2 separate regions of the Homo sapiens genome follow, and region 1 is linked to region 2. Evidence: fine-mapped expression QTL. A gene starts in region 2. The other region holds a variant in brackets. All regions are shown on one strand. Distances are from middle to middle. Region 1 overlaps PRPF6 (pre-mRNA processing factor 6). Region 2 holds the start of C20orf204 (chromosome 20 open reading frame 204).

What was found.
Region 1: its variant is fine-mapped to the expression of C20orf204 in blood mononuclear cells (TOPMed, PIP 0.93).

What each region holds. Positions count from the first base shown.
Region 1 is chr20:63,981,278-63,991,078 of GRCh38, reverse strand. PRPF6 (pre-mRNA processing factor 6) reads right to left here. Exons shown (of 21, transcript NM_012469.4): 1 at 9,763-9,801; 2 at 7,864-8,032; 3 at 6,054-6,172. Among named protein-coding and RNA genes, the nearest start is that of PRPF6, 5.0 kb to the right of the region's middle. RefSeq lists a silencer at 9,653-9,762. The variant G/C (reference allele first, on the strand shown) is at 4,480.
Region 2 is chr20:64,030,206-64,041,420 of GRCh38, reverse strand. It overlaps C20orf204 (chromosome 20 open reading frame 204), which reads right to left and starts at 5,239. Exons shown (of 4, transcript NM_001387010.1): 1 at 5,095-5,239; 2 at 3,219-3,494; 3 at 2,973-3,125; 4 at 2,420-2,799. The coding sequence starts at 5,097. The coding sequence ends at 2,662. PRPF6 (pre-mRNA processing factor 6) reads right to left here. Exons shown (of 21, transcript NM_012469.4): 20 at 9,377-9,503; 21 at 8,321-8,580. The coding sequence ends at 8,428. RefSeq lists silencers at 2,167-2,446, 2,637-2,956, 3,057-3,126 and enhancers at 3,772-4,365, 4,797-4,896, 4,366-4,959, 5,847-6,076.

The DNA of each region.
Region 1 (9,801 bases), 50 kb after region 2:
TGTAGTAACTCATGCCTGTAATCCTAGCACTTTGGGAGGCCAAGGTTAGGGGAGGCAGGTGGATCACTTGAGGCCAGGAGTTCAAGACCAGCCTGGGCAACATAGACAAAAATTAGCTGGGTGTGAGCCTGGCGTGGTGGCTCAAGCCTGTAATCCCAGCACCTTGGGAGGCCAAGGCAGGCAGATCACAAGGGCAGGAGTTCAAGACCAGCCTGGCTAACATTGGTGAAACCCCGTCTCTACTAAAAATACCCATCTCTACAAAAATCAGCCGGGCGTGGCGGTGCATGCCTGTAATCCCAGCCACTTGGGAGGCTGAGGCAGGAGAATCACTTGAACCCTGGAGGCGGAGGTTGCAGTAAGCCGAGGTTGCGCCATTGCACTCCAGCCTGGGCAATAGAGTGAGACTCCATCTCAAAAAAAAAAAAAGAAAAAAGAAAAATTAGCTGGGTGTGGTAGCACGTGCTTGTAATCCCAGCTACCTGGGAGGCTGAAGCAGGAGAATCGCTTGAGCCAGGAATTGAAGGTTACAGGGAGCTATAATCAAGCCACCGCGCTCCACCCTGGGTGACAGAGTAAGATCCTGTATCCAAAAAAAAAAAAAAGTGAAATGCAATGCCATTCACGTTTAATTACTATAGGTATAAAATTTATGCACAATGATTTAATAACGAGCTTCTAAAAAGATGTCCAGGCCAGGCACATTGACTTATGTCTGTAATCCCAGCACTCTGGGAGGCCAAAGGATATGGTTTACATCTGTGTCCCCATGAAATCTCATGCTGAATTATAATTCCCAATGTTTGAGGTGGGGCCTGGTGGGAGGCCACTTGAGTCTTGAGGGCAGACCCCTGATGGCCTGGTGCTGTCCTCGAGGCAGCAAGTTTACATCACGTAAGATCTGGTTGTTTAAAGTGTGTGGCAAGACTGGGCACGGTGGCTCATACCTGTAATTCCAACACTTTGGGAGGCTGAGGCGGGTGGATCACTTGGGGTCAGGAGTTCAAGACCGGCCTGGCCAACATGGTAAAACCCTGTCTCTACTAAAAACACAAAAATTAGCCAGGTGTGGTGGCGCGTGCCTATAATCCCGGCTACTTGGGAGGCTGAGGCAGAAGAATCACTTGAGCCTGGGAGACTCAAAAAAATAAAAAATAAATAAAATTCCAGAAGAACTATATTTTACTATTCTAAAATTATCTTCAAAAAATAAAACATTCTACATACATCACAGGAAGTTATGATTACATGTATAAAAAGCAACAGAGCTGGGCGCAGTGGCTCACGTCTGTAATCCCAGCACTTTGGGAGGCCGAGGTGGATGGAGCACAAGGCCAGGAGTTTGAGACCATCCTGGCCAACATGGTGAAACCCCGTCTCTACTAAAATACAAAAACTAGCCAGGCGTGGTGGCAGGCACCTGTAATCCCAGCTACTTGGGAGGCTGAGGCAGGAGAATTGCTTGAACCCGGGAGGCAGAGGTTGCAGTGAGCCAAGATAAAAAAAAGCAACAGAAAGAGGAAATGAGCCAAAATGTTAACTGTTACTTTCTAGACTTATGAATAAATGTTATGCTTTTACCCATACTTACTCTTATTTTCCTAATATTCTATAATGAGAACTTTTTATTTTTTTCCTTTTTGAGACAGTCTCTGTGGCCCAGGCTGGAGTGCAGTAGCGCACTCTTGGCTCACGGGAGCGAGCCACCACACCTGGCTTCCGTTCGTTGCCTGTGCTTGTGGGGTATTACTCAAGAAATCTTTGCCTAGTCCAATGTCCTGTAGAGTTTCTCCAATGTTTTCTTCTAGTAGTTTCAGCTTGAGGTCTTAAAGTCTTTTAATTTGATTTTTGTATGTGGTGACAGAGAGGGGTCTAGTTTCATTCTTCTGTATATAGATATCCAGTTTTCCCAGCACCGTTTATTGAAGAGATTGTCTTTTCCCCAATAAATATTCCTGGTACATTTGTCAAGAATGAGTTCACTGTAGAGGTACCTATTTGTTTCTGGGTCCATTCTGTTCCATTGGTCTATGTGTCTGTTTTTCTGCCAGTACTATGCTGTTTTTGTTACTACAGCTCTGTAGTATAATTTGAAGTCAAGTGTTCCCCCAGTTTTGTTCCTTTTGCTCAGGATAGCTTTGCCTATTCTGGGTCTTTTTTGGCTCCATGTACATTTTAGAATTATTTTTTCTTTTTCTTTTTTTTTTTTTGAGACGGAGTCTCACTCTGTTGCCCAGGCCGGAGTGCAATGGCACGATCTCAGCTGACTGCAACCTCTGCCTTCCAGGTTCAAGTGATTCTCCTGCCTCAGCCTCCCAAGTAGCTGGGATTACAGGCACCTGTCACCATGCCCAACTAATTTTTGTATTTTTAGTAGAGATGGGGTTTAGCCAGGCTGGTCTCGAACTGCTGACCTCAAGTGATCCACCTGCCTCAGCCTCCCAAAGTGTTGGGATTACAGGCATGAGCCACTGCACCTGGCTATTTTTTCACTATCTGTTAATAATGTCCCCAGTATTTTGATACGGATTGCATTGAATCTGTAAATTACTTTGGGTAGTATGGATATTTTCTTTTATTTTAAGATGGAGTCTCACTCTGTTACCCAGGCTGGAGTGCAGTGGTGCAATCTCAGCTCACTGCAACCTCGACCTCCTGGGTTCAAGCGATTCTCCTGCCTCAGCCTCCCAACTAGCTGGGACTACAGGCGTGCACCCCCACACCCGGCTAATTTTTGTTTTTTGGTTTTTTTTTTTTTTGAGACAGAGTCTTGCCCCGTCACTCAGGCTGGAGTGCAGTGGTGCAATCTCAGCTCACTACAACATTTGCCTCCTAGGTTCAAGCAATTCTCTTGCCTCAGCCTCCTGAGTAGCTGGGATTACAGACGTGTGCCACTACACCCAGCTAATTTTTGTATTTTTAGTAGAGACAGGGTTTCACTATGTTGGTCAGCCTGGTCTCAAACTCCTGACCTCAAGTGATCCACCCACCTCACTCTCCCAAGGTGCTGGGATTACAGGCGTGAGTCCCAGCGCCTGGCAACTTTTGTAATTTTTTTAGTAGAGACAGGGTTTCACCACGTTGGTCAGGCTGGTCTCGAACTCCTGACCTCCAGTCATCCACCTGCCTCGGCCTCCCAAAGTGCTGGGATTACAGGCGTGAGCCACCGTGCCCGGCCATTTTTGTATTCTTAATAGTGACAGGGTTTCTCTTTGTTGGCCAGGCTGGTCTCAAACTCCTGACCTCAGGTGATCCACCCACCCTCAGCCTCCCAAAGTGCTGGGATTACAGGTGTGAGCCACCACACCTGGGGGCATAGCCTGCAACTTTAATCAATTTGTCAGTTCCAATAGTGTTTTGGTAGAGTCTTTAGGGTTTTCTAAATATAAGATCATATCATCTGCAAACAAGGATAATTTAACTTCTTCTTTTCCAATCTGGATGCCCTTTTATTTATTTCTCTGGTCCGACTGCTCTAGCTAGGACTTCCAGTACAATGTTGAATCACAGTGGTGAAAGTGGGCATCCTTGTTGCGTTCCAGTTTTTCCCCATTCAGTATGATACGAGCTGTGGGCCTACCATATGTGGCTTTTTTTTTTCTTTGCGACACAGTCTCATTGTGTTGCCCAGGCTGGAGTGCAGTGGCACAATCTCAGCTCACTGTAACCTCCACCTCCTGAGTAGCTGAAATTATAGGCCTGAGCCACCACACCCAACTAATCTTTGGATTTTTAGTAGAGACAGGGTTTTACCATGTTGGTCAGGATGGTCTCAAACTCCTGACCTCAAATGATCTGCCTGCCTGGGCCTCCCAAAGGGCTGTGATTACAGGCGTGAACCACCCCATCCAGCTGTATATAGCTTTTATTGTGTTATGCTCCCCCCCCCTTTTTTTTTTTTTTTTTTTTGAGACAGGGTCTCGCTCTGTGGCCCAGGCTGAAGTGTGGTGGTATGATCTCAGCTCACTGCAACCTCTGCCTCCTGGGCTCAAGTAATTCTCCCATCTCAGCCTCCTGAGTAGCTAGGACTACAGGTGTGTGCCACGAAGCCTGGCTAATTTTTGTATTTTTTTGTAAAGAAAAGGTATTACCCTCTTGCCTAGGCTGGTCTCAAACTCCTGAGATCAAGCAGTCCTCCCGCCTCAGCCTCCCAAAGTGCTGGGATTACAGACGTGAGCCACCACACCCAGCCTGAGGTATGTTTCTTCTATATGCAGTTTTTTGAGAGTTTTTATCATCAAGGAATGTTGAATCTTATCAAATGCATTTTCAGAATCAATTAAAATGATTAGGCCGGGCGCAGTGGCTCACGCCTGTAATCCCAGCACTTTGGGAGGCCGAGGCAGGTGGATCATGAGGTCAGGAGATCAAGACCATCCTGGCTAACACAGTGAAATCCCGTCTCTACTAAAAATACAAAAAATTAGCCAGGCGTGGTGGCGGGCAACTGTAGTCCCAGCTACTCAGGAGGCTGAGGCA[G/C]GAGAATCACTTGAACCCAGGAGGTGGAGGTTGCAGTGAGCTGAGATTGCGCCACTGCACTCCAGCCTGGGCAACAGAGCGAGACTCCGTCTCAAAAAAAAAAAAAAAAAGATCATATGGTTTTTGTCCTTCATTCTGTTGATATGATGTATAACACTGATTAATTTGCATATGTTGAACCACCCTTGCACTTGTATCCCCTGGGCAAAATGCCACTTGGTCATGATGAACGATCTTTTTTTTTTTTTTTTTTTGAGATGGAGTCTTGCTCTTGTCTCCCAGGCTAGAGTGCAGTGTTGTGACCTCGGCTCACTGCAACCTCCACCTCCCGAGTTCAAGCGATTCTCTTGCCTCAGCCTCCCAAGTAGCTGGGATTATAGGCGTACACCACCCACCATGCCCGGCTAATTTTTGTATTTTTAGTAGAGACTGGGTTTCACTAGGTTGGCCAGACTGGTCTTGAACTCCTGACCTCAGATGACCCATCATCCGCCCACCTCGGCCTCCCAAAGTGCTAGAATTACAGGCGTGATCCACTGCGCCCAGCCGATGAACCATCTTTCTAATGTGTTGTTGAATATGGTTTGCTAGTATTCTGCTGATTTCTGCATCAGTGTTCATCAGGGATACTGACCTAACATTTTCTTTTTTCAGTGTGTCTTTGTCTGGTTTTGGTATCAGGGTAATACTGGTTCTGTAGAATAAGTTTGGAAGTATTCCCTCCTCTATTTTTCAGAATAGTCTGAGTAGAATTGGTATTAGTTCTTCTTCAAATATTTGGTAAAATTCAGCAATGAAGCAATCAGATCCTGAGATGTTCTCTGCTAGGACACTTTCTGTTACAGCTTTGATCTCATTACCTTTTATTGGTCTGTTCAGGTTTGGGATTTCTTCATGGTTCAATCTTGGTAGCTTGTATGTGTCATTTAACATCTTTAATTCATTTGCAAATTACTCAACATATAATAATCAAGTCAGTAGGCCCTTTTCATTTCAAAGATGGTAACCCTGATGTATCGTAAAAGTAATCCACAAAATTCTGCTGATTTCTGGAAAAACTTAAGAGTTCTTAAGCTCTCCACTGCAGCCCCCAGGCCCTAAGGCTGTTCTGTAACAGCCCAGTGCTTATCCAGGCATGGCTACGACAGACCAAGACCCTCAGGTGGCCTAAAAGCTAAGCAGACACACATACTCTATTGCAACTTTTCTCCAAATATAAAACAATTCAAAACAAAACTTTTTTTTTTTTTTGAGACAGGGTCTCACTATGCCAACCAGGCTGGAATGATCATGGCTCACTGCAGTTTCTACCTCCTGGGCTTAAACGGTCCTTCCACCTCAGCCACCCAAGTAGCTGGGACTACAGGTGTGTACCATCTGGCTAATTTTTAAATTATTTGTAGAGATTAAGTCTCCCTACGTTGCCCACACTGGTCTCAAACCCCTGGGCTCTAGCTATCGTCCTACCTCAGCCTCTCAAAGTGCTAGGATTACACACGTGAGCCACTGCGCCTGGCCACAAAACTTTTTTTTAAACTTGGATAAATATTGTGAAAGGCAACAATTTCTTTTACCGTCTTTCTTTTCTTCTTTCATCCATCCTTTTATCCAGGGCTGCATAGATAGCATCTGCTTCCTCATCATCTTTCTCGTAGGGTCCACTTGAGAAGAGGCTCCCAGCATAGCCATTAAACTGAGAAGCAAACAACACGTGTAGAGGTCAGCTTTTCCTTCAACACCATCCCCACCAGCGAAACGGAGATCTCTACTTGTGAAATACTTGCTAAATTATTTTCTTCAGCCAACGAAGCCAAATCAAGGGACAGTCTACCATATAACTGGTGACTACTCTTCAAGCGTCAAGGGCATGGAAGACAGAGGAGACCCCCAATTGGAAGGGACCAAGGAGACATGACGAAATGCAATGGGGGATCCTGGACTAAGCCTAAGCCAGAAAGCGGACATTCATGGAAAAACATGAAATGCAAATACGACTGACAAATTAGTTAATAGTACTGTGTCAATGTTAACTCCTTCGTTTCAATAACTGCACTAAGGTCATGTAACATCGGGAGAAGCTTGGTGAAAGACATGCAGAAACTTTTTTTTGGGGGGGCACTATTTTTGCAAATTCCTGCAAATTTAAAATTATTTCAAAACTAATTTTTTTTTTTTTTCTGAGACAGAGTCTCGCACTCTCGCCAAGGCTGGAGTGCAGTGGCGCAATCTTGGCTCACCGCAACCTCCGCCTCCCGGGTTCACAGCATTCTTCTGCCTCAGCCTCCCGAGTAGCTGGGACTACAGGCACATGCCACCATGCCCGGCTAATTTTTGTGTAGTTTTAGTAGAGACGGGGTTTCACCATGTTAAACAGGATGGTCTCGATATCCTGGCCTCATGATCCGCCCACCTCGGCCTCCAAAAGTGCCAGGATTATAGGTGTGAGCTACCGCACCTGGCCTCAAAACTAAAATTATTTTTAAAAATTTTCCTCAGAGGAAAAATGTCATCTGTTAGAAGACAGTTAATCGGTATTCAGTCAGCTGAAGTTTTTCTTTAGATGTCTGTTTAGAGGGCAATCACTAAAGCTAAAAAAAGCAAATACTATCACCAATTCCACTTTAAGTTTTTATCATTAAAGACTGGCAGCCAGGCGCAGTGGCTCACGCCTGTAATCCCAACACTTTGGGAAGCCGAAGCGTGCGGACAACCTGAAGTCAGGAGTTCGAGACCAGCCTGACCAACATGGAGAAACCCTGTCTCTACTAAAAATACAAAATTAGCCAGGCATGGTGGCGCATGCCTGTAATCCCAGTTACTTGGAGACTGAGGCAGGAGAATCGCTTGAAATGGGGAGGCAGAGGTCACAGTGAGCTGAGATCACACCACTGCACTCCAGCCTGGCCAACAAGAGCGAAAGTCCGTCTCAAAAAAAAAAAAAAAAAAAGACTGGCCAATAGGAAATGCCAAGGCAGTGGTCCTAACACCTGCAAGAACATCTCTTCCGACAAGAGCGAAATTCCATCTCAAAAAAAAAAGACTGGCCAATAGGAAATGCCAAGGCAGTGGTCCTAACACCTGCAAGAACATCTCTTCCGACAAGAGCGAAATTCCGTCTCAAAAAAAAAAAAGACTGGGCAATAGAAAATGCCAAGGCAGTGGTCCTAACACCTGCAAGAACATCTCTTCTGAGGGACAAAAAGTGCACATTTCTCCGTGTTTTTCCTGCTCCCTCTCACTCTCAGTAAAGATGTTCCATGAATAGCTAAAATTTAAATGCATGAGCCACTCCAAGCCATTCATTACAGACACCAACACACACTGGTTAGGTCAGCTGCTCCCAGAGACTGGCTGGAGGAGCCACGAAAGCCGGACACATCTCACCTCATCGTAATTGGTGTCATTTAGATCCTCGTCGTCATCGTCAGCAGCCTGATTTTTCTTCATCTGGTCCCCAACGGTTCTCTTGCCTGGGGGTGCATGGCGATCATCCACAGGGTCATTTGCATCACGGGCGGGCCCAATGTCTGACCGCGTGGTGAAGCCAGTGGCGCTGCAGGAGACCCCCAAGACACCGGGTGTCTGAATAACTCTGTTCCTGTGCTCTTCTCCACTCCTGGTTATCACTTACTAACACCTCTTTTTCTAACACCTTTGGGAAACCTCCAAAGATCCTGGTGACAATGAACTGCAGTCTCAAACACTTCTGATCTTCTCTGCTTACCTGAAAGTTTCAGCCTACCCTGATGATGTTACCAAGGCAATCTCTCTCCACCCTAAGGCTTCGATCATCTCCCCCTCCACATCCAACCAGGCCCTTAAACCCAACTTGGCCCACACTGAGCTCTTCCGTGCCCACCTTACAGCTGCTCTGGGGGGTTTCAGCTGATAACAGCTGTCCCAGATGCCACGGGACCATGATGTAATTTTTGCCTCCCTCTCCCACTTTCCCCATCCTGTCTGTCCCCAAGTACTAATGAATCCACTTTCAAAATCCCTCCTTCCCAGACTATGACTCCCATCACAGCTGGAAACCAAGTTACCTCTCCCTGCCTTTAGCCTTCCTCTACTTCAACCCATGCTCTGCCAGATGATTCTTCCCAAAACACAGCTCTGAGTAAAAAATTCTGGGCCGGGCGTGGTGGCTCACGCCTGTAATCCCAGCACTTTGGGAGACGGAGGCGGGTGGATCATGAGGTCAGGAGTTCAAGACCCCCCTGGCCAACATGGTGAAACCCTGTCTCTACTAAAAATACAAAAATTAGCCGGGCGTGGTAGCGGGCACCTATAATCCCAGCTACTCAGGAGGCTGAGGCAGAGAACTGCTTGAACCCGGGGGGCAGAGATTGCAGGGAGCTGAGATCGCACCATTGCACTCCAGCTTGGGCGACAGAACAAGACTTTGTCTCAAAAAATAATAATAATAATAATAATTCTGAAGGGTCATGATCTTTCTAACGTCTCCAGGAGCTCTAGCCTGACGCTCAAGGCCCCTCCAACCTCCTGAGCTCTATTCTATTCGCTGTACATTCCACTCACACTGGACTCCCTCCTGTTCCCTGGGCTTCCTCCTTGCCTCACTTTTTTTGAACTCCCACACGCAGAATGTCAGTTTCTCTTCTATCGTCACCGTTTCTACAGCCCTAAGTCCAGCTCTCTTACTAAACTTGGCTCCAATGCTACTCTCCATTAAGCACTGGGTTCTAAATCTGGTCCTCTTTACGTACTTATTTATGGTAATAGCAAACCCTCCTTAGTGAGCTTGTGTGTGCCCCACAGATTCCAATATAATACCACCACCAAGAAAAACCCAGTAGTGTTCCTCATCAAATGAATAGCCAAATAGGATAATAACGACTGCTCACTTATCCAGCAACGCACGGTGGTCATCTGTGTTGCAGGCATAGAGGACCCAGGCACGCTTAAGGCGGGGCGGGCGGGCGGGCGGGGGGGGGGAGTGTCAGCCCGACCTGAGGAAGGTGGTCGCGTGTTTCCACTACACGTCAGATTCCTCTACTCCTCACTGCAGACCGTATACAGCATTACCCATCTTACAGACCAAAACACTGGGCTGAGAGTCAATGTGTCACATCTAGGCGGCAAGCAGGGTGCACACACAGGTATGTCCTGACCCCAAAGCCCGTTGCTTCCTGCAGGGATTAAGCCGATCCACCAAGCGTCTTTCAGACTGCGCGGCCATAGACCCCCGCCCCCAAACACGCCCCAAAGCACTGCGCTCCTGTAGCCGGGTCCCCGCCCCTCGCGCGCCGCCCCAGGCCTCACCCCCGGCCCAGCCCCGGCACGTAGCCGAGGGGCGCGGGC
Region 2 (11,215 bases):
AAGAACCAGGCTCAGGCCACCTGCCCTGGGCCTCTGCAGGGAAGGCACCACCAGTCGGTCTAGAGACATACAGGGCCAGTCCATGGGATCTGCCCTCAGTGGTTCCGTGGCCAATGGCTCTGTCCCTATCAGCCGTGGGCCCAGTGAGTCTCTTTCCATCTCTGGGTTGGTTCTGGTCAGTTCCAGCTAACAAACATTTGTTGAGCAGCTCGTGTGCTGGCCTGGGCCAGGTGCTGGTGTATCATGCTGAGGGAGACATGCCTCTATCCTCATGGAGCTACAGAAGAGCTACGGTCCCAGTGCTGAGCCCAAAGAGGACCTGAGCCTCTCAGGTCTGAGCAGGCACCTGCGGCTTCTCTCCTAGTCTCTGTGGCTCTCGGTAGCTCTGGGCCGCTTCGTGTAGCTCCACACATGCCCCTAGACCTAGTCTGGTTGGGCTGTCCCCACCCTGGACAAGTGAACTTTGTCCCAGAAGCCCAAAGCCCACCTTGCTCCCATTCTGCATGAGGGAGAGGAGCCATGGGCCAGGATGCAGGACTTCTCACCCACCCACGTGGTCGTGGTCCAGGACTAGGCACCGACATGTGTCCCCAAAATCCTGAGGCCTCTGTTCCTCCTCCTGCCCCCAAGAGGCTGTGGTTTGTTTGAACCTTTCTCAGTCAGGGTAGAGGGAGCTGTTTCTGTTGCCCACCCACATCCCCAGCCTCTGACTGCTCTCAACAGCAGAACGGGAGCATTGCGGGTGGGCAGGAGCCAAGGGGCCGCCCAGGAGGTCATGCATGGACAGGAGAGGAGTGCCCTCCCCATGGCCCAGGGGTTGGGGCAGGTCCAAGTGCAAAAGTCAGCTGCCCCTGGGGCAATGTGACAGTGGGAGCCTTCATGGAGGGCCTGTCCCCATCCTGTCCCTGAGCCCAGCCCAGAACCCTGGACTCTCTCCAGGCCCCAACTCAGCTGCCTCCCAGCCATGCTCGGCTGTCCATACCTTATGCTCCATACACCAGCACGCCCAGCTGAGCCCAGCCACGTCCACAGTTCCCCAGCTCCCTCAGGGCCCTCAAACCGACCCACTCCCCCTTTAGTGCTTCCCATGTTCAGGCTCCCCACAGACCCACCCAGGTACTCCAGCCAGGACCCTGGGCAGCCTGGACCTCTCTCCACCCCTTTGTCCTCACCAACCCTCCACACAAGTCACGGGAACCTTTCTAGATTCCAACTCTAACATCCCTCTTTCACCAAAGACCTTCCGCTGCCTCGGGATAAGTCCAAGCACCCCCCTCAAGTGCTTTGGCTCCAGCTGGGGCTCCTGCACCCTGCATCTCCCCCTCATCCCTCCCACACTTGCCCCCACTGGCCCCCACGGAGCAGGCAATGCAGAACTAGGGCTGGGAATGCTTGCTAGGTGTTTGTGCTCAGAGCATGGCCAGGGACTCTGTCAGAAGTGCTAACTCTGCAGGGGAATCCAAGGCTCTGAAGTCCAGGAAGCTTGGCCCCCAGCCTCCAGGCAGGGGACATGTGGCAGATCCCATGCCCTGGGCCTGGGTCTGAGGCCAGCTCTTACATTGCTGGCTGTGATTTGGGGCAAGTCTCAGCCTCCTCGTGCTTCAGTTTCCCCATCTATAAAACAGAGACAGTAGCTCCCGTTGCACAGACTAAATACATTAACACAGAGTGTGGGGCTGGGTCAGGGTCAGCTTGGGAGGTTACTTCTTTCTTCTGCTGCTGCCCCTGATCCCACAGAATGCCAGAGGCACAGCCTGCTCGCGGCCTTTCCGGGAAGGGGAGGGTAACAGGTGTCAGGTACTTTACCTCCCCTGCTCCTCCATGGGCCGAGATTGGGGGAGGGGGGTGACAGACTCCCAGACCTGCGCATCAGATGGGGGAACCAGGGGACAGTCCCCCAGCAAATGGAGGGTTCCAGGGGCCAGAAAGCGGGCCCCAGCCTGGCCAGTCCTGCAGAGGGGGCTGGGCAGTCTCTGAGCCCAGGCCGTGGTCACCCCTCCGGAGGCAGCAGGAAATAGCCTGGCCAAGCTCACAGCCAAGGCCCGCAGCTCCCGCTTCCCTTCGGGCCCGTTTCCTTTATCCGGTTGTTTTGCTCCGAATTCACCAAGTCCAGCCTTCCCCTCCCCTCAATTTCCACCCCCGGCCCCGGTCCAAAGTGGAGCAGGACGGATACGTGACGTTTTAGGGGCCCCAGGAGTCCCCCGCTCTGCCCTCCGCCCAGCCGGGAGCCGCTGACAGAGCCGGAGCGCGCCCAGCGTCCCGCGTCCGCCCTCTGCTGCCCGAGGCTGGGAGCGGCGGCTCCGCCCCGTCCAGGTGCCACAGGAAGTGCGGGTCTCCGCATTCCCCCTCCACCGCCCCCCGCCACCGAGGCGCAGATCCCGGGGCGGTCCTAGGCCCACAGAGAGGCAGGCGAAGGGAGTGCCGGACCCGCAGCGCCAGCTCCGTTTATTGAGGCCTTCGGCGCGTGGAGGGCGGGCCTCCTCCGTGACCCAGCGGCGGCCAGGCGCGCTCCCTTCTCCAAGTCCTGGGCCCTCCGGGGAGCGCGGGCTGCGTCGAGCGAGGGGCCGAGGTCACCAACAAGTCTACAGAACGAGGCGCGTCTCCAGGCTCTGCCGCGGCCCCGCTGGTTCTCCTCCCCGCGCAGGGCCAGGACGGGCCGCGCTAGGAGTCCCTGGAGGCCGGGGCGCGCAGCGCGAAGAGCTTCTCCCAGCAGGTGGCGACGGCGTCCAGGGCGCGCAGCAGGAGCTGCCTTCGGCCGCCGCGACGCCGGGCAGGGCGCATCTTGGGCCGCCGGCTCCGCTGTCGGGGACAGGGCGGTCAGCGAATGCGCACGGCCCCCGCGCCCGGCCCGGCCCGGGAAGGGAGACGCGACCCAGCCCGACTTCAGCCTAGGGCCGTGGAGCCCCGGGACGCGCGGCGGCCCTGTGGGGGTTAAGGGAGGTCTGGCTCTGGGTGCACTCAGGGACGCACACCTGGCGCAGCGTCCTGCAGTGGCGCCGCATCACCGCCTCGGTGCGCACAGCCACGGTCCAAGCAGCTCTCTCCAGGGCCCCGCGGCGGCCCCCGGCCACCGCCCCGCGCAGGGTCCGACCCAGGGACGAGATGGACAGGAGGATACTGTGCTCCTGGGGAGGGAAGGGAGGAAGGCGGGGTGGGGGTGGGGGGAAACTGAGAGAGGAGCAGGCCGGCGAGCTTGGGTAGGGGCGCCTCCTCCATACCTTCTGGGCGCCACAGGAGGCCCGAGGCCGTCCCCGCCGTCCCGAGCTCCCGGGTCTAGTCAGGTTTTTCTGTATGAAATGAAAGTGTCTGGAGCCTGGCCTGGTCTTTTCGGCCCCCGCCCCGCCCCACTTCACGGCGGCCTGCAGATCCTCGAAGATGATGGCGCGATAGTGGCGGAGCACGTCGGGGACGCTGCAGGCCGGGGAATAGGCGCGGCTTGGCGCGGTCCCCAGCAGCGCCAGCAGGAGCGCCCAGAGTGCAGGCTTAGGGGGTACCTGGAGGAGACAGCAGGTTGGGGTTAGGCCTGGGGGGTGTTCCCAGCACAGGGAGCAGCCAGCCCACCTGCACTTTGTTTCCGTAGAAGCCCCACCCCCTGCCCCACCCCACGGGATCTCTGAGCGAATGAAATGGACGTGTCACCAATCAAGAAAGGCTGTAGGCACAGGCCTGGCGGGATAAATCAGGAGACACAAGAGATAGGTCTGCAAACCAGACAGTTCTATGCTCCCTGCAAAGATGTGAAAGGGGTGAGTGATGTCGGCTGGGAGGCGATGTCACTGAGTCCTGAAGAACCCATCAGGAGATAGAGGGGGCAGGCCCAGAGTCAGGAGAGCCTGGCTCTGTGGTCCACGTGGGAGTGGGGCCAGCAAGGGGTGGAGCACCCTCAGGACCGCACAGAGCAGGGCCCCCCACCAGCCCCGTACAGCTCTAGTGGGGCTGGTCTGCAGGCTCTTGGGGGTACAGTAGGAAGTTGTCCCAGTACAGCCTGTCTCACTCATGGCCATGCCCATTCAACTCCACACCTCCCATACTGGCGCCCTCTGGGTTAGCTCACAGAGACGTGGGAACTGGGGACTCCTTGTACCCCCAACCCAACTGGGGCAGGGGCTCAGAGCTCCAAGCCACACCCTATTGGAAGGGGAAAGCTAGGGGGACACCCAGAAGCTATAGAGGAGGAAGGAGCCACCACATCCAGCCCCAACCAACAGTCGCAAAAGGCCCCTCTGCCTGTACCAGCCGCCCCACGCCATCCCTCCGGGCAGCCTGTGCCACAGGCCTCCCCCGACCCAAAATGGAGGGCCTGCGCCCGCAGGGATAAAGCCCAAACATCAAGGAGACAGCTGACGGCCCCCAGGTTCCCAGCCACCCAAAAGGGGCCAGCCCCAACCCTTCCCCTGGGCCCCCAGGATGGAGTCAGACAGCAGATCTAGGGCTGGAAATTAATCATGCGAACCCAACCAAGATAAGAGGACTCGACTCGGCTTCCTAGCCCTGTCAGGGGAGCCTGAACAAGCAGCACCCCAACCCTTGCATAGAGCTGGGGGCCTGGTGGGCGGTGGCAGCTCCTGCTCAGAGCACAAAGCAGCAATGGCTGGAAGAGCAGATGGCTTGCTGTGGCCCCTTCCTGAAACCTGACCCCCCCAACCACACACGCCACAGCCAACTTGGTGGGCTCAGAATTGCCACGTCATTCCCTCTGCCTGCTCTGGGTCAGAGGTCATAGCGAGAACCAGAGCCTGACTCCTGAGCAGGCCAGCTGGAGCTGCAAGGATGTCCAGCACCTGCTGTGTCCCACCCAGGTGGGGCAGACTGGCTGCCCTGGGAGTCCCAACTGGCCTGTTAGTACCACTTCCAGGCTCAAGCCTCAGCCCAGCTTAGAACAGGGTTGCCCGGCACCCAGGAGCCCCCCTCCCCCAACTGCCAGAAGCCAGGGCACATGCACCCAGTGCCACCCACAGGGACGCAGTGACCAGAGCCAACCGGAGATTTCCTGGTGGGGCTCAGGGGAACAAGCAGTGTCTCCTGAGCTGTGTGTACCCCCAGCCCCTCCACCCAAGTAAGCCCCCTCCCTAGAGGAGGCCCACAGCTGCTCACCATGGGCCTTTCAGGGTCTTGCCCTCCCTCACTCCCGCCAGCAGGCCACGCACATGATCCTGGGGTCCTTGGGCAGGGTGTGCACTGCCGCACCAGGTCCAACACCAGCCAACCGCTTCCCTGGACAGGCTGCCTGGAGGACTGCAGAGGGGCAGGCCAGGCGGAGGCTTTTGAAGTTGGCTCCTCCAAGCTGAGGGAGGGAGCAGGAGAGGGAAGGAAAGGCCACGCAATCCCAGCCCTGCCCCCTCCCTCTCTCCACTCCCTATCACTTCAATTAACCTGGCCCTGGAGCTGGGCAGCCACCTCTCCCAGGGGATCCAGGGCTACTGTGGGTCTTGGATTAACTTGTCCGTCCCAGAGATACTGTTCTGTCAAGGAGGGGTGAGGCGCCGCGTGGGCTGGGGCAGTGCAGGGCCCAGCTGGTGGGGGAGGGGAGCCAGGTGAGACTGGGGCCGACTCTGTGGCCAGCAAGTGCTGCCTCTCCCAGGGATCTGGCTGATGGGCAGAGCTGGTGGGAGGCCCTCATCCCCTCCCCAGCTGCCGGACCTGCAGCCTGACATCCAGGGGGCCCTGCCCCAGCAGGTCCCAAGACATGGGGCTTCCCGGGCCCCCGCTGCTGGCCCGGCCTCACTCCTCCTGGGCTGAGGGGTCTCTGGCTGAAGAGGTAAGTCTGAGGCTGTTACTCTGCTGCCTGCCGTAAAGATACCCAGGAGCAGGGTGGGCTCCCCCGATCCTTGGCTGCTGTCGCTTCTGCTGTGGTCTGGGGCACTCTGGTTAGCAGCCTGACAGGCAGTGGTGAAGAGGCACCTCAGAACACGAGCAACCTCTGAGGCACAACTCATCTTTGCAGGCTGAAAAAATTTCAGTTGAAGACAAGTTAAGGTAGTTTCCCAGGGGGAAAAGTCAGTGACTCACAATAGTCAAGAACAGACCACACAGGTGACAGGAGTCCCCTAGGATTGTAACACTGCATCTTTACGTTTTTGCCTTTTCCGTGTTTGGATGTGATTAAATGCTGTGACAGGCTGTGCAGGTCTGCAGCCCAGGAGCCCCAGGCTCTGGCACCCGGGCACACAGCCTGGGGGTGCAGGAGGCCGTGCCTGCCAGCCTTGTGTAAATGCACTCTTTAATGTTTGCAAGACGACATCACCTAACGAGGTTTTTCTCAGAATGTATCCGCACTGTTAAGTGGCGCACAACTGTGGTTTGGCCAACTCAAAGCATTTGAGAAAACCCCACACAGGCAAGAAAGAGGAGACACTCACACATGGACAATGTAAGCGCTCCGGAACTTTCCAAGGGCCCTGCAGGAAGTATCCCCTGAACATGGCCTGAAACATTCTTTTCTGTGTGACCCCTCAATGCCCACCCAGCACTGGCCATTTCAGCTCTGAGGTCAGAGAAGGGCTTCCTTCCTACGCCTCGGTTTCCACATCTGTACAGGGCCAGGCTGGCTCACAAACTTCCTGGGCCTCGGTTTCCACATCTGTACAGGGCCGGGCTGGCTCACAAACTTCCTGGGCCTCGGTTTCCACACCTGTACAGGGCCGGGCTGGCTCACAAACTTCCTGGGCCTCGGTTTCCACATCTGTACAGGGCCGGGCTGACTTCACAAACTCCAAAAAGCTGCAGGACTCTCTTCATCTTCAGAATAAATGTTGAGGGCTCCCTCATGCTTCCGTCTCTCCATGAGGGATCAAAGGAAACTCCTCCACAAGTTCCAGTGAAAACACTCATGAAGCTCCTGCAGCTGCTCCTCAGGACGGGGCGAGAGGAAGGACTTCCACATTCCAACGATTTGAGCTGGACCCCAGGTTGCCTGCCCAGCAGAGACCAACCAGCAGTTCCTGACCCCATACAGGGGTGGCAGGTCCCTTGCCCGGGATTGACCATGTCCTCAAGGTCCCCAGAACCACAGGGAAGGGGGACCCACACCCACATTCTGGTCTACCAGGACCGCCCCACGTGCAGGCAGGGATCTCCCACCCCAGCCATTCTCACTCGTCAGGAGCAGGGCAGGCAGACCACAAGGCCTAGCACAGGCCCCCATGTGCAGGTGGGCAGAGCTGTGGGTCAGTGACTGACCACCACCACAGGCCCTGCCATCGGTACCACAAGACAGGCCGGGACCCTCCAGGGCTCCCCTCTCACAAGGAACATCCAGGGACAGCTGCTCTCCAGCAGCCTCCTCAGCCCACATGACAGCGCCCTCCTCCCCGCCCGCTGGCCTCAACGACTGTCCACCCACACCCTCTGGGCCAGCCATGACCTCCAGCCAGATGTCTCTAGCCCCGGCCTACACAAGAACCAGCTGGCTCCCAACTGAATGCACACACATGATCCCAGGCCTGAGGACGTCCTTTATCCTTACACAGCTAAGGCTGAAGAGAAGCCAAGTCTCTCGGGTGATCAACGTTCAACCTAGAGATGAGAACCATCACTGTTCAACCTGGAGATGAGAACCATTACAAGGGCTTTAGGGTTAAACTGCGAATGATAAATTAGCAAAGATAAACTCACGGCCGGGTGCGGTGGCTCACGCCTGTAATCCCAGCACTTTGGGAAGCTGAGGCAGATGGATCACCTGAGGTCAGGAGTTTGGCAGCGGGCGCCTGTAGTCCCAGCTACTCGGGAGGCTGAGACAGGAGAATTGCTTGAACCCAGGAGGCAGAGGTTGCAGTGAGCCGAGATCGTGCCACTGCACTCCAGCCTGGGCGACAGAGCGAGACTGTCTCAAAAATAAAAAAATGAACTCACCTCCAAAAGAAAGAACGCCTCTTACTGGTGACACTGTCACTCAGCACATGCCTGAGGGGCCCGGGAGGCTGTGTGGAGAGGCCCTGCGCAGAGCTGGGTTCTCCTGTTTGCACTCAGACCCCAGGGAGGCCCCAGCTGTCCCCTGACCAAGACCCTTGCAGGCGGCTGCCAGGCTCCTGCGAGCACCTGCGTCCTGCATGCAGCTTGGTCCCCACTGTCTCCAGCTGTCCTCACAGGGCTTTTGGCCAGAACATCTGCACCCCTACCACCTTCTCCACAGTCTTGGGGAACCCGGGCACCTCCACAGTGCCTCCTCTGTGAGACACCGGCTGTCTGCAAGAGGCTTCTGTCCAAGCAAGGGCGATCACAGCCACCCCAGGACGGCATGGGACAGGCCAGGACAGGCCAGACTGGGGCAGCAGAAGCAGGAGCCAGAGAAGGGCCCCAGAGAAAACCAGCAGGCTGCCTGTTCTGACACGAGACATAAAAACTTTTAATGAAGGAGGACACAGCTCAGAGCCCTTCCACATGCGGCCCAACCCTGCCCCACGGAGACCGGCCATGGCAACCGCTCAATCAGAAGGTGTTCTTGATGCGGCCGGCCACCAGCCTAAGGATGTCCCCGATCTTCTTCTGCCAGTTGGCGATGTCCTTGGACACGGCGCACCACAGCTCCCCATGCCGAGGCTCTGCACTCTCACAGCGCTTCCTCACCTCCTCCTGCTGCTCCTGGGGGGACCACAGGGCACGTCAGGCAGGGGTCCTCCCACGCTACTCCCCGGACCTCGCCTGCTTCTCGCCTGGCCCCTGCAGACCTGGCCCTGGCAGCACCAACCCCAACTGGCGGGCCAGAGGGCACAGGCCCTGCACCGGAAGGCAAGGCTCTTTCAGGTGTGTTCCTCAAAGGAGCCCCACCTCCTGAGGAGCATGGACCCCACCAGCCTCAGCCCACAGATGAGGAACTGAGCCAGGCTCCCCATGTCTGTGCCTCACACAAGTGCTCACGTCTGCCTTCTCCAAACAAGGAGTTAGGGTTCACGTGGGCTGGCAACACTTTCCAGGGAGGACCAGGACAGCCTGACTGCCTCCAGCACAGCTCAGACAACGCTTGGCTCTAGCGGGGCGGGTGGGAGCAGAGGGGCTGCTGCCCAGGCTGTCCTAGAAAGCCACACTCAGGCTCAGGCCCAAGAAAAAGGCCAACTCCATTCCCATTCCTAAAGTGAGCCCAGGCTCCAGCCAGCAAATAACTCGTTAAAATACTCCAGCAGACAGGCCACCCTAACGGACAGGGTGCCTCAATTCCAGGGTGTGGAGCTGTGAGGCTATAACCAGAAAACGGATGTGGAGGCAGAGACTGCCTTGTGGGGAGGTGTCGAGGATTCTGTGCCCCACACACCCGGTCCATCCTCCCGACCCCGGGCAGAGTCACGCTGGCCGTGGCCACCTCCTAGAGCCCCCAGGGCTGGCGGAACTCCCCGCCACAGTCCCAGAAGGCACTGAGCGGCGGTCTGTCGAGGGGCCTCACCTCAGTGCCATGCTGCAGCTCAAACTTGTAGAAGAAGGCCCAGGCATCCCCCAGGTCCGAGTCAATCTTCACAGTGCGGTGGAACCACTCCCTGGCCTTGGTGATCTTCCGCTGACTCCAAAACAGCCTGTTCCAGCAGAAGGACGTGAACCCAGAGTGAGTGGCTGCAGGACGGTATTCTGGGGCAGGGGAACGGCTTCAGGGCCATCAGCTTCATCCCTGACCCGCAGCCCTGGTGCTCCCCTCAAGAAGGCCTGAGGATCAGGGCCTCGGCTGATCCAGAAATAATTACCCCAGATCATTAACTTGAAGCTGCCCTTCACGGGTCTAACCAAATTGGTTTTTTTTTGTTGTTTTTTTTTTTTTTTTTTTGAGAAGGAGTCTCGCTCTGTCGCCCAGGCTGGAGTGCAGTGGCGCGATCTCGACTCACTGCAAGCTCTGCCTCCCAGGTTCAAGCGATTCTCCTGCCTCAGCCTCCTGAGTAGCTGGGATTACAGGCATGCGCCACCACACCCGGCTAATTTTTGTATTTTTAGTAGAGATGGGGTTTCACTGTGTTGGTCAGGGTGGTCTCAAACTCCTGACCTCATGATCCACCTGCCTCAGCCTCCCAGTGCTGGGATTATAGGCATGAGCCACCGCACCTGTCCCAAACTGTTTCTTAAAAAATTCACACGCAGGGAAAGATCTTCCAACTCCGTAAAATTAGGGTCAGATACAAGGAGATGAAACTAAACCTGACACAAAATTAAACTGCAACTTTGATGAGGGAAAGTTATACAGTTTCAGCTCCTCACTGAGACACCTGCTGGATCATCCTGCCCCACCCGGCCTCCAGCAGCAACCCCAGTGAACACTGAGAAGATGGGCTCCAGGCAGCACAAGGGCCTGGGCCTGCAGCCCACAGCCCTCAGGCCACTGGATTCACACCGCCGTGCCTGCCAGACACATGCACACCTGAAAAACCGGGCCCGAAGAGGTCCATGCTATGAGAGGCCAGGTAAGGGTGTGCATGGCACCCCCACCCGCTGCTGGAGAAGGGATGGCGGGCGCTGGCTGCTGAGCATGCTGGCAGGCCCGGGACTCTGCGTTGCTGCCACCCTCTCCTCAGGGTCACCTCCCCCTGGAGCCAGAGGCACCGTAGTCAAGAGACAACACGAGGAGCCTCCACTCCGGGCAGCTGTTCGGGTTCGTCTCAGTTGCCAAACGGAATAATTTCACACTCTGATAACCTGATTGTTTTTTAAGCCTTGTGGTATTCTTAATTGCCCGGTGTTAGATAAACTGTGATTTAAAGAGCACAAACCCAGATAGCAGACACACAAAACACTGGCTTGGGAATAGCAAGGAGTGACTTATTTACTTTAGCAAAGCCTTTTATAAGGTTTTATGGCTGCACTATCAGAGTGTCACCCAGAAGTCACTCTGGGAGGTGAACGCACAGGGCAGGACCAAGGTAGCACCAGGCAGACACAAGCCTCCCTGTGGGGAGCCTCTCTCATCTGTCGGGGGCCTGCGGGCAGGGGAGAGGAGGTGCCCCTACAGGCAAGCCTGTGGGGGCGGCACCCAGACCTCTGGAGACCAAGCACCACTGCCACCCAGTGCTGGGGAGAAGGGATGGAGAGAATCAAAAGCCAGCACTAGGAAGGCTGTTGTCTCTGCATGACCCATGGCGGGGCAGGTGGAGGGGAAGCCGGACACAGGAGAGCTCCTGGGGCCAGACACGCCACCTCTGCCAGGTGAGCCCACGTCCTGAGCTGCAGCCTCAGGAACCCAGGGTTCTTCCAAGAACTCCCTTCACCCCACATGGTCACTTCCCAGCCTCCTGACCCACACTCA